2 separate regions of the Homo sapiens genome follow, and region 1 is linked to region 2. Evidence: fine-mapped expression QTL. A gene starts in region 2. The other region holds a variant in brackets. All regions are shown on one strand. Distances are between the middles of the regions. Region 1 has its middle 28 kb from the start of CYSLTR2. Region 2 holds the start of CYSLTR2 (cysteinyl leukotriene receptor 2).

Region 1 (2,920 bases), 27 kb after region 2:
TTTTGATCATGTCACTCCTCCAGTCTACAGCCTCCAGTGCCCTCCATGTCAAGGTCTTATGGCTGTGGCTAAGGCCCTCTCTGATACCTCCTTCCTATCCTTACCTCTCTCACCTTCCCCTGGTCACTCTCCCCCTTGTTCACTCCATGCCTCTGTGTTGTTCCTTGAACAAATCAAGCACTCCCTGACAGTAGGGCCTTTGCCTCTGCCTGCAAGGCTCTTCCCCAGCTGTCCACCTGGCTTCTCCCTCACCTGCCTCAAGTCTTTCCTCAGGTGTCACTTTCTCAGTGAGGGATATCTCGATTACTGTATGTCAAATTGCACCCAACCCACCCCTCACTCCCAAAACTCTACTCATTTCTATTTTTTGCATCTCACTTAGCACCTCCTCATATGTCATATGACTTGTCAATCTGTTATGCCTTTTCACCGTGCCAAGATATGAGCTCCACAGGGTAGGGACTTCTGTTTTGCCCACTAAAGCTGACACACAGAAGGCATTCAGTCAATGTTTGCTGAGTGAATGAATGAATGAATGAATGAAATGAATGCTTCTGCTGGGACAAAAGTGTCATTTCTTAACAAAAAGCATTTTTTAAAGGGCAGACAGCCATCCTCCCAATGGTTTGTGAAGACTGAATTCCTTGGTTAATTTATCTCCAGGCCACATTCCTCATACCCAGTTTAAGCTGGGATTTTTCCAAGTCAATAAAATCAGGATTAAATTTTTAAAAAAATGTTGGTGAATGCACCTAACACAGTTCCTGGCACAGTATAGGTACCTTATAAATTGTTTCTTCTCCCCTTTCTGATAAGTATGGAATTTTATTATCCTGAAGGAGTGGGATGGAGGCTTGTTTAATAGGAGTCCTTCCGGTAAGAGGGACAAATGATCTGGGACAACAGCAGAGATTGCTCTTCCAGACTTGTGGATAGCAATGACACATCAAAACACTGACAGCATGGAAAGGCATCTCCATAGAAGTAAGCTATAGAATTTCTGGGCTCCTGAACAAGGAGACTACCACAAGCCTGCTCTCTGCATTTGGGCACAATTTTTACTGTTGATGGCCTTGCCCTTGCTCCTTAGTGTCCCCTGGCATTTTGCTTATTTAAAAAATTGTTTATTTATTTATGTTTAAACTCCTCTTACTATCATTCCCAAGCCTTCTGACATTTTGTTTCAAAGCATAGTATCAATATCAGAATGATCTGAAGTACAAAACAGTGGTTTGTGTTCGTCAAGGGGTGCTGGCACCATGAGTTGCAGTTTGACATAATCTCCCGCTCTGGGAACCCCAGCCCTTGAGATTGAAATTTCTAAGCGGCAGTAAAATCACTTAGCAATGGCTCTTTTTAGTGTAAGTGTTGCAGGATTTTTAAGGAATTAGAGAGATCGATGGAGTTCAGGAGGATATTTATCAATTATTTAGGTGCACCAGCCCAGTCAGATTAACATCCAAAGGATTGAGCCCTGAACAAAGAGTTAAGTTACATTTTAAGCATTTCATGGGGCAGGGAGAGATCTGTGCAGGGGGAGGCATACTACAGAAGTGAGAAAAAAACGCAGTTATTCAATCAGTTGAGATATGCATTACATCATTTCTTACTTTTCAAAGAAAA[A/G]CATGTTTTGCAACTTGAGTTTATCTGTCTAGTGACCTTGCAGCTGCACAGCTAGGGAAACAGGATTTTCACAATGCCTGGGAAAGGAGGAGAGATAAGGTTCACTAGCCACAGAAAAACAGGCAGTTAATTTTTAAAGGACTCCAACTCTTCCTTTTTCTCAGGCGGAATTGGGTTTTCTTACATACAACTGAGTTTTTGCTTACACACTCCTTAATTTCTTTTAATTCCTGTTCCATAAGGAGGCACCTATCTCTCCAAGGAGAGCCTGGGTGACTGACACTTGCTCCAGTTCACTGTTCCACAATGAGCAGCTCTGTGCAAACCTATCCCCAAAGGCTGAGTTTGCTGAGAAGCCAAAGAAAAAGACTCACAAATCCAATTTCTCAGAAAGAAACATTTAATAGGGACTTATGAAAAGAAGCCATGTCTTGGGAAGCTGAGAGATGGTAGATCCCTGTACCCACCCTCCAGAAAGTATTTTTTACATAGCAATTTGTTTTGGTGAAACGTGTCACTGGTCATGTCTCCGACCCTCGGCAAAACTCATGACTAGTGGAAAAGCTAGGTAAGCATCTTTATGAGGGGTTATCTATGCTGCAGTCCTTGTTTCTTGACCTTGCTGCAGAATGCCTTGGTCTACAGGAGTCAAACATTGGTCATTATGATAGTTTCACTTCAAGGTGGTATCACTCTTGCCATACAACAGGATATTCTCTTATACTCCACCCTATAAAACTGGTCCTTACAATCTCATGTGCCCTCCTCTTCTGGGATAGTCCCTGCACCTAGATGGAGGATGCTTGATATTGTATAGCTTTAGCAATAGTGCATTGGCTCCATTGGAGCTGCCATGACAACAGTAAAGGCAAAGCAGGGCAGTAAACAACATATGCATTTAATACCTAAACCAAGAACTAGCTTCATCCAAACCTGCCCAAAACCAGTCATTCAAAAGAGGGGTTTGGTCTGAAAGAGTGGTTATTTGGGTTTTCATATCAGTCATTAATTTAGTGATGTTATCTGATTCATCAGGAATATAAACATAGCATTCAGTTTTTATGATTGCACAAGCCCCCCTTGTGTAACAGTGAGCACGTCTAAAGCCATGTGCTTTTGGAGGACAGACTTTCTCATGAGAGTGACTTCTGTGTTTCAGAGAGAGATTCTCTTGTGGCTATTATTAAAAGCTTTCTTTGTATAATTTGTTACAGCTTCCACATGCTAAATAACATCTTTGATGTCCCGTTGAGGAAGGAAAATAGAAGCTAAGTTGTTGTACCGATAGAAAACAGAT
Region 2 (2,920 bases):
GAGTAGATGATAGAAATTTCTAGAAGTCTTATGTTTCCCACAAATTATTTTATAATTTGCATTATTTATGTAGTGTTGAAAGGGAGATTTGGTTGGCTTGCCTTAAATTATACCTCCCTTTCTCCTAATACATATTACTCTCAGGTATATTTCAGAGACAGAAAAATATTTTGAATGACCTAGGTCATCTGTTTTTATGCTGACCACCCATTAGAACCACCTGAGAAGTTTCTGGAAAACAAGATAAAATACTGCAGATGACTCACTGATCTCCAAAAGTTAAGCTTCAGTTATTCTAGGGGTAATTTTCTAATCTCCTCAGAGTCGGGTGATTCTGGCCAGATGTGCAGCCAGGGTTGAGAAACACTGATTAGGGTCCCAGTGGGGTAAGGAACAGATTATATGCTCATGATCTCACATACTCTTTCATTCTCATTGTGCCTCTGAGCAAAACCATTGAAATATATGTGCTCAGATTTAACTTCTTCTACCCCTAAAACAAGACACTGAATGGAAAAAATATATCTTATATAATAGAAGGACCCAAACTATGAAAAAGAGGATAACAGCCAAAAATGGAGGAAGTATAGTAAAGTTCCTCAATGCAATAATATGCAGCAGCTTTAATTTATGATTACAAAGAATTCACAGCAACATGGAAAAACCATAGACTGATATGGAGGAAATGAATACAAACTTGTCCATAGTGTAGGGACGCAACTATGAAAACTAAAGTTATATGTGCATACACACACACACACACACACTCACACACACACACACACACACACACACACACACACACACACACACACACACACAAAGGGACGATCCCCAAAATATCAATAGAGGCTATTTTGGTGGAGAATTTGGCTTCTTTCAACATTTTTATACTTCCACAGTATTTTTTAAACTACCATGTACATGATAGGAAAATAACATTTATAGTAGAACAAAACAAATTTACTTTTAAAAAATTACTCCTCTGACTATTATGTGATCATCAAGTCATGATGCTCAACACTGAATTAACAAAACAAAGATTAAAATGCCCACCTGAAGGTCTCTGTCTTTCAGCTGCCCTGGCTTCTGCTGCCTCTATCTCTCCTGCCTTTCTCCTCCGAGTAATTCAGGTTGCTCATTTCAAAGAAAAGTGAAAGAGCAAATTATATTTATGAACAGTGCCAACCAATAGCAAGCAAGTCAGGAAGTGTAGCAGGTCATCTGTGCTTTTTAGAAGCCATTGTAGATGTTAGTGCAAGCTCCCTTCTCAAGAAGGGTGAAAATTTCCAGTTAGGGGCTATGTCTAAAAAGAAGAAACCTAAAATTGCCCTGCCCCTCTAATGACTGGTTTTTTGTCATTATCTTTCTCAAGAGATCAAGCGGATATGATGGGTTAGAGTCAGGAATTTTAAGTGGCTTTTAGTTCTCCTAAATGGTTTCTGTTTCCATGGCAACAGAAATAGCAACATTGCCTTACACACATAGCACTTTAGACTTTTTTAAAGCACTTCCCTCACTCACTTGCATTTTCAGCTCACTTGCACTCAGGCAGAGACCTTATCCAGTCTGCTGAAAATGTTCTGTCAGAGGTCACCAAAAACCTCCTTGTTGCTTACATAAAAAATCCTTTCTCAGTCCTCACCTTCCTTCCCCTCTTGTTTGCATAGTTGACCATTGCCACTTTCCTGAAACTTTTCCCTTTTTTCTCTGACTTTCCTGGTTCTTTTTCTACCCCTCAGATTGCTCTTCTTTGCCTCTCTTTCTGATGCCTCTTCTTCCACCCCTTTTCTACGTGTGAGCTTTCCCCAGAGGTCTGTGTTCTGACTTCTTCCCTCCTTCTCTTGCTTTTACCTATCTGATCCACAATCATGGCCAAATTTAATGTGGCCCAGGTGGAGCTTTTCTCTTCCTCTCTTAGTCCTGCATCCCCCCATCTACCCTGTCTAAGCAAATGGCACCACAATAATTTAGCCAGTTCATCCATCCATAAACCTAGAAGTCACTTTTAACTTCCCTCTTTCTTCCACCACCCACTTCTGAGCCAACAAGTTCCATTTGTTCTGCCCATAAAATATGTTCCAAATCGAACCATTACTCATCTCTCCATCACTGTTCAAATCCTCGTTTCCTGCATAGAAAGCTGCAGTAACATTAAGCAAGAAAAATAAGTAAAAGGGATCCAAATTGGAAATAAATAAGTAAAATTTTGTCTGTTTGCAAATGATAAAATCTTATATGTAGAAAAACCTGAAGATACCATGCACACACACACACACAAAACCCCAATAGAACTAATAAGCAAGCAAATTGAGCAAAGTTGCAGGACAGGAAATCAATACACAAAAATCAGTTGCATTTATATACACTAACAATAAACAATCCAAAAATGGAAACTAAGGAAACTATTCCATTTATAATAGCATCAAAATGAATAAAATACTTTGGATATATACTCAGTAGTAAGGTTACTGAATCTTGTTGAGATCTCTGCACTCTCATGTTTACTGTAGCACTATTCACAATAGCCAAAATATGGATCACCCGAAATGTTCATCAACAGAAAGATGGATGAAAAATGTGGTATATATTCACAATTGAATACTATTTACTGATTTAAAAAGAACAAAATTTGTCATTTGTGGCAACATGGATGAGCTTGGGAGACATTATGTTAAGTGAACTAAGCCAGGCATAGAAAGATAAATACTGCATGTTCTCACTCACATGTGGAAGCTAAAAAATTTGATCCTATAGAAGTGGAGAGTAGAATAGTGGTTACTAGGGGCTGGGAAGAGTACTTTCTAGGGGTGAGGGTGAGTGGTTTTCTGTGCAGCTTCTTCATGCAGCTGTGGAGAAGGGGCTGGGACCAAGGTTGCTCCTCTGAAGACAAGGTTCTTCCTGGGTCTGGGATTCTATT

Evidence for each region. PIP is the estimated chance that this variant, and not a neighbour inherited with it, causes the effect.
Region 1: its variant is the best candidate, but not a certain one, in a credible set for the expression of CYSLTR2 in whole blood (TOPMed, PIP 0.86).

Annotation. Positions count from the first base shown.
Region 1 is chr13:48,624,935-48,627,854 of GRCh38, reverse strand. No RefSeq gene overlaps it. Among named protein-coding and RNA genes, the nearest start is that of CYSLTR2, 28 kb to the left of the region's middle. The variant A/G (reference allele first, on the strand shown) is at 1,624.
Region 2 is chr13:48,652,154-48,655,073 of GRCh38, reverse strand. CYSLTR2 (cysteinyl leukotriene receptor 2) reads right to left here and starts at 1,145. Exons shown (of 5, transcript NM_001308476.3): 1 at 1,057-1,145.